2 linked regions of the Homo sapiens genome follow. The protein of the gene in region 1 purifies or fractionates together with the protein of each later gene. This does not show direct contact. Each region holds a gene or a part of one and is shown on either strand. Other genes may lie near its edges.

What was found.
Region 2: the proteins of DPPA5 (region 1) and DNM1L purify together in Homo sapiens (affinity purification with mass spectrometry; one large-scale study listed by BioGRID and IntAct). This does not show direct contact.

The regions. Positions count from the first base shown.
Region 1 is NC_000006.12:73,352,563-73,355,713, forward strand, and holds DPPA5 (developmental pluripotency-associated 5 protein), read right to left. Parts: upstream 1,715-3,151; 5' UTR 1,664-1,714; coding exon 1,552-1,663; intron 1,471-1,551; coding exon 1,291-1,470; intron 817-1,290; coding exon 758-816; 3' UTR 501-757; downstream 1-500.
Region 2 is NC_000012.12:32,685,553-32,689,570, forward strand, and holds part of DNM1L (dynamin-1-like protein), read left to right. Parts: intron 1-4,018. UniProt on the Homo sapiens protein: Functions in mitochondrial and peroxisomal division.

The sequences.
Region 1 (3,151 bases):
TGAGGCAGGAGAATTGCTTGAAAGGGGTGGGGGCGGGGGAGGGGGGTCGAGGAGGTTGCAGTGAGCCAAGATCGCTCCATTGCACTCCAGCCTGGGTGACAAGAGAAAAACTCGTCTCCAAAAAAAAAAAGAAAAGAAAAGAAAACAAACAAAAAACACACACAAAACATGCTACACTAACAATGGTTCTGACTTCCCATATTTTTGTTGGACACATTTGCTTTTCAGCTTATATACAAAATGTCAACCTATTATAGGGTTGTTTTCAAGTGAGTCCAGGTCACTTGAGACAATCATCACATCTCCCATAGGTTTTTAGTTCAGTGCTGCATCTCAGGACCCTGGCTCCTCCACCCTTTTTGACACTAGCCAAGTGTGCCTTTGGACCCTCATTTTGTCTTTGGAGGATTTCAATTAAGGGTTAAGCTCAGGGCCACACTTCAGCTGTGCTTCAGAGATATTTAAGGTAGTACCTACAATCCATCAACCACACTGAACTATCAACTTATTTAAAACTTTATTGTTATTTTTAAAAATGGGAAAAAAGAAAAAACACTTTTTATTAACAATCATCAAAGAAATATTCACAACAAGACTCAGAGCCAAGGGTTTTCCCTTAACTCTTTAAGGGAACAAATGGTTTTCCCTTAACTCTTTAGGCTGGAGCAGATTTTAAAACAAGCTTAAGGAATCACTCTAGCTCTGGCCACAACCTAATCTCTGCAACCCGGCTTCATTGCATTGGCTGGAAACTGGTTCACTTCATCCAAGGGCCTAGTTCGAGGGCATTCATGGCTTCGGCAAGTTTGAGCATCCCTGCACCAGAAATAGCAACAGCGGCGTGAGTCTGGGGGAAAATAGTAAGCGCCCGGACTGTTCTCCGCCTCTTTCAGGGTTCGTTTCTGGGACTTCTGATCCAGGCGTTCTGGGCCTGAGAGTCAGGCCCAGAACCTTGGAACCCGAGACTACTCGGCCCATTCGAACATTCTCCAAGAAACTGAAGGGGGCGGGGAGACGGTTGAGATAGCTCAGATAACCCTGCCCAGTGGGTCCAGCACCAGCCGCCTTTCACCATAGTCTCACCCCTGGGTCTCCAAGACCGACGGCCGGCATTCTGGGGCCCCCATTCCCAAAGGGGTCTTGGGAAGGCCCAGATGCCAAGGGCACCCCTGGTGACGCCCAAGGTGCTGGCAGCGAGCAAGAGAGGAGAAAGAGGAGAGGGCTGGAGGAGAGGCGCGAAGCGGCCCCCGCGAGCCTGTGTTCCGCGTACCCAGTCTCTGGGCCTCTCACCTCGCTCCTGGCGCTGGCGGTGCCACTCAGCCATGGACTGGAGCATCCACTTGGTCCGGAGCTTGTACAAATAGGAGCCGTAAACCACGACCTCGGTGAGGTCTGAAGACTCCAGAGCCTTCAGCTCGAGCATGGCCTTGCTCACCTGCTCGATGTAAGGGATTCGAGATCCGTCCGGGCCTGTTGGGGAAAAGAGATGAGATCCCCGGGCCGGCTGAGACTCCCGAGCCGGGGCAGCCCGCCAGTACTGGGCACACTCACCGAAAATGGCTTTCAGCAGCCGCGTCTGGACCTGGAACACCTCTGGATCTTTCAGGTCTTCGGGAACTTTCACCCACGGCGGGATATGTCTACGTGCCGGGAGAGTTCCCATCTTATGACCCTCACAACCAAGACCACTCTCCAGCGCAAACCAGGCCTAATCACGCCGGCCGAGGCTCAGGGGCGATAAAGCCTCGCACCTGGTGGCCCCGCCCCCGGCCAGGCCCCGCCCCCGGCCCGGGCCAGGACCCTGAGTCCATGCCCCGCCGCCCTGGCTGCGGTCCAGCAGGTTGCCAACTCTTCCGCTTCCCGCGACTTCGGGAGAGCCTCACCCGGGCCCAGCTGTCTCCAAGTTAACTAGGGTTTCCACCTGCATTGACCTGTGTCTTTCGCACCAGAATCCCATGGGCTTGGGAATGGCTGGGGGCAAGGTGCTCTTGCCTCTTCCTCTAGGGAACAACCGGTGGGACCTGAACCTCGGAAAGCGGGCGTCCAGGCTTGAGGGTGCGAGGACCACCCAGTAGCTGCCGAATCGAGTTCCTGCCTCACACGTTCCAAAGAAGGGTCCGTATCCCCTCGGCCTTAAGGAGCAGGACCCGCGGCTCCACTTTGCTGGCGACCCGGACAACGTCCCGGGAACTCTGGAGGAACTCTTGCCATTGAACAAAAGAGAAAACCGAAATTCGGAAACTGATTATCTTACCTAAAGGGATTAGCGTTCTTCGAAGCCCCTGGCTCTAGAGTCTTTGAACCTACCCGGATTATAAAGCTCACCTGTGCCCTGCCTGCGCACTCCAGCCAAAACCGGTCCAGGCTTCTGGCTCCTCTGTAAATAAATTTGGTTTATTCGTTTTTTAAACATAGTGTTTGGAGCGATGCACTGGAGTCACTCGATGAGAGTGTGATTTCACTGTTTTATGGCTTTACAGATGGTGATTAAGCTGGCATTTCCAGTCCTGGTAACATCTAATGTCCCCTCAGCTGTCCATTATTGAGGGTTTCTTAAGGCAGACCTCTTCACACACACACGCACGCACACACACACACACGCACGCACACACACACACAATGGGTTCTTTTGCAACCACCAGTGTAGTTAATTTAGAAAATGATCATCAATAGCTAAAACTATCAGATGAAGACTGTTGAGGAACTAGATAGTCACAAGTTTGGAAGCCCTAGGCACAGATTATGAATTGCAAAGGAGAAAAAAACATTCCTTTACAGTAGAGACTTGGAAGAAGCCACCTTGACCCAAGTTAGCATCACCAATAATGGGACAAATGGATTTCTGGTTCAATATCTGAAAAACAAAAAGAGGACTGTTTTATTAATTGACTAAGACACTAAATGCTGTGTGCATAGTTCAAATAATTCTGAATCAAAGATGGGGGATGCATTTCAGGACAATGAAGGAAATTTTAATATGCCCTATATTTCAAAGTAGTATTAGAAACTTCTAAAGTTTAGAACTTCTAGAGTGGGATAAGTGTACTACAGTTATGTAAGATAAGGTCATTATTCTCAGGAGAAACATGCTAAAGTATGTAGAGTGAATTGGGTTTCTTTGTTTTTATTTTTATTATTTTTTAAATTAAAT
Region 2 (4,018 bases), on another chromosome or scaffold:
GGGTTTCCTTATATTGGTCAGGCTGGTCTCGAACTCCTGACCTCAAATGATCCACCCACCTCGGCCTCCCAAAGTGCTGGGATTACAGGCGTGAGCTGCTGCGCCCAGCCGTGGCTGCACCATTTCACATCCCCTCCAGGGTTCAGGTTTCTGCACATCCTTATCAACACTTGTTGTTATCTTTTTTTTTTAAGCGCTAAATCATTCTGGAATTCTTTATTTGAAAAACAGCACTTTTTGACACCTATGCCATTTCCTTCTCTTATGGACAACTTTTTTCATAGTTTGATGTCCCTCTCTCTTTTTTTTCTCCATGAGCACTGCTGTCTACATTTTAGCATTTATTGACTATAATTTAATTCCTGCTTATGCATTGTTTTCTTGTGTTCTTAGATAAATTTATGTTTTTCTCTTTTTTTGTATAGATTATGAGCTGCTGCTTTTTTTTAACTTAACAAAATTGAGGTGAAATTTGCAGAACATAAAATTAGCCTTTTTTTTTTTTTTTTTTTTTTGAGATGGAGTTTTGCTCTTGTTGCCCAGGCTGGAGTGCAATGGCGCGATCTCGGCTCACAGCAACCTCCACCTCCCGGGTTCAAGTGATTCTCCTGCCTCAGCCTCTCAAGTAGCTGGGATTACAAGCATGTGCCATGCCTGGCTAATTTTGTATTTTTAGTAGAGACAGGGTTTCTCCATGTTGGTCAGGCTAGTCTCAAACTCATGACCTCAGGTGATCCGTCCACCTCGACCTCCCAAAGTGCTGGGATTACAGGTGTGAGCCACTGTGCCCAGCCAAAATTAGCCCTTTTATAAAATGTATAATTCAGTGTCATTTAGTGCATTCATAATGACATCTCTGTCTAGGTCCAAAACAATTTCATCACGAAAGAAAACTACTATTGAGCTGTCACTCCCTCTTCTTTCTTTTCCATTTAATGGCTGAGTAATATTCTGTTATATGTATAAACCACATTGGTTTATTCAATCACCTATTGATGAGCAATTGGGTTGTTTCTGCCTTTTAGCTGTTGTGAATAGTGCTGCTGTGAATATTGGTGTACAAGTATTTGAGTACCTGTTATCAGTTATTTTGGTATATACCTAGGAGTAAAATTACTGGGTTCTATGGTAATTTTGTTTAACTTTTTGAGCAACCACTTTTCCACAGCAGCTACACCATTTTAAAATTCCCACCAGCAATGTTTGAAGGGTGCAGTTTTTCTGTATCTTTGTCAACATTTGTTATTATCTGTTTTTGATTATAGTCATCCTAATGGGTGTGAAGTTTTGTTTTGCATTTCCCTAATGACTAATGGTGTTGAACATCTTTTCATGTGTTTGTTGGGGTTGTCTTATTGTTGAGGTTGTAAGAGTTCTTTTTTTTCTTTTTTTTTTTTTTTTTTTGAGATGGAGTCTCGCTCTGTTGCCCAGGTGGCCAGGCTGGTCTTGAACTCCTGACCTCAGGTGATCCGCCTGCCTTGGCCTCCCAAAGTGCTGGCATTATAGGCATGAGCCACCACACCCGGCCTTGTCTTTTTGCTTCCTTGTTAGTGTCCTTCAATACACAAAAGGTTTTACTTTTGGTTAAGGCTAATTTATCTTTTTTTTTCCTTTTATTGCTTTATGGTGTCATATCTAAGGCATTGACAAATCCAAAGCCGTGAAGATTTTTTTTTATTTTTTAATGTTTTTTCCCCTAATTATTTTATAGTTTTGGCTTGTATATTTAGGCTTTTGATCCATTTTGAGTACATCTTGGTATGGTATGAGGTAGGGGTTCATTTCATTTTTTTTGCACGTGCTTCTCCAGTTGACCTAGTACCATTTGTTGGAGAGACTGTTCTTTCCCCATTGAATAGTCTTGGCATTGTTGAAAATCAGTTGAGCAAAGATTTTGTTGTTGTTGTTGAGACAGGGTCTCACTCTGTCACCCAGGCTGGAGTGCAATGATGCAGTCTTGGGTCACTACAGCCTCCACCTCCTGAGTTCAAGCGATTCTTCTGCCTCATCCTCCCAAGTAGCTGAGACTACAGTCACCTGCCATCACGCCGGGCTATTTTTTTTGGTATTTTTTTTTAGTAGATACGGGGTTTTGCCATGTTGGCCAGGCTGGTCTTGAACTCCTGACCTCAGGTGATCCATCCACCTCGGCCTCCCAAAGTGCTGGGAATACAGGCATGAGCCACCATGCCTGGCCAGCCAAAGATTTATTATATGGGTTTATTTCTGGATTCTCAGTTCTATTCTGCTTTGATTACTGTAGCTTTGGAGTATATTTAAAATTTGAGAAGTGTAACTTTACCAGCATTGTTTTTCTTTTTCAAAATTGTTTTGGTTGTTTGGGGTCCCTTGTCATTCAATATGAATTTTATTTTATATTATTTTATTTTGAGAGGTAGTCTTACTCTGTCGCCCAGGCTGGAGTGCAGTGGCGTGATCTCGTTTCACTTGCAGCCTCTGCCTCCTGGGTTCAAGCGATCCAACCACCTCAGGCTGCAAGTAGCTGAGATTACAGGTGCCCACCACCATGCCTGGCTAATATTTGTTTTTTTAGTAGAGATGGGGTTTCACCACGTTGGCAAGATTGATCTCAAACTCCTAACCTCAGGTGATCTGCCCACCTTGGCCTCCCAAAATGCTGGGATTACAGGCGTGAGCCACTGTGTGGGCCCCGTATGAATTTTAGATTTGGCTTCTCCATTTCTGTAAACAAGACAGTTGGGATTTTGATGGGGATTGTGTTGCCTCTATAGGTTGCTTCAGGTTTTATTGGCATCTTAACCATTTTAAGTTAGAATTTTTGATGGGGAGGTTTTTTCTTTTAGCACTTTATCTTACTGCCTCTGGCTCCTATGGTTTCTTTTCTCTTTTCTTTCTTTGAAAACAAGTTTATTAAAGTAAAGGAATAAAAGAATGGCTACTCCATAGGCAGAGCTGCTGTGGCCCCTATGGTTTCTGATGAGAAGTCTGTTGTATCTGTTGTTAGTCTTACTGAGGATCCCTTGTTCATGACTCTTAGCTTCTCTCTTGCTGCTTTTAGCATTTGTCTTTGTCTTTCAACAGTTTGATTATAATTTATCTCAATGTGTGTATTTCTTTGTGTTTATCCTGCTTTGAGTTCATCGAGCTTCTTGGATGTGTAGATTCATATCACTTTTTCATGCTTTTATGGAAGAAGTGGGGATTTTCACAGACGATAATTCTGCCTTATCAGATATCTGAATCTCTCTCTTAGTGATCTAGAAAGCACTGGACCTATAGTTTTATAACCAAGAAAAAATTCCTTCCTAAGGACTGTTAGGTCTGCAGTATTTTAGAAAGTTTGGATTTTGGGTATTAAGTTCATATAAGAACACTCTTTTAAGCCAAGTGTGGTGGCCTGTGCCTGTAGTCCCTTTTACTTGGGAGACCTGGTGGCAAGGCTGCTTGAGCCCAGGAGGTTGAGGGCTGTAGTTCACTGTGATTGTGCTGTGAATAGCTGCTGCACTCCAGCCTAAGCAACATAGTGAGACCTGGTCTCTTAAGAACAAAAAACACCCCACATATTAACTACAAATTATGAAGTGGTTTAAACTTCATATTTATATTTTGTCATTAGGTAGAGGGTTTGAGCTATATGGTAGAAACATTGTAGTTTAGCTATTTTATTTTATTTTATTTTTGAGGCAGAGTTTCGCTCTCGTTGCCCAGGCTGGATTGCAATGGCGTGATCCTGGCTGACTGCAACTTCTGCCTCCTGAGTTCAAGTGATTCTACTGTCTCAGCTTCCCGAGTAGCTGGGATTACAGGCATGCGCCACCACGCCTGGCTAATTTTGTATTTTTAGTAGAGACAAGGTTTCTCCATGTTAGTCAGTCTGGTCTCAACCTCAGGTGATCTGCCCGCCTCACCCTCCCAAAGTGCTGGGATTACAGGCATGAGCCACTGGGCCCGGCGTAGTTTAGCTGTTTTAAATACCATAAGATTAACATTTCTAAGGACACTCTTAGAAATATTTTATTTAAATAAGTGAAGCAAA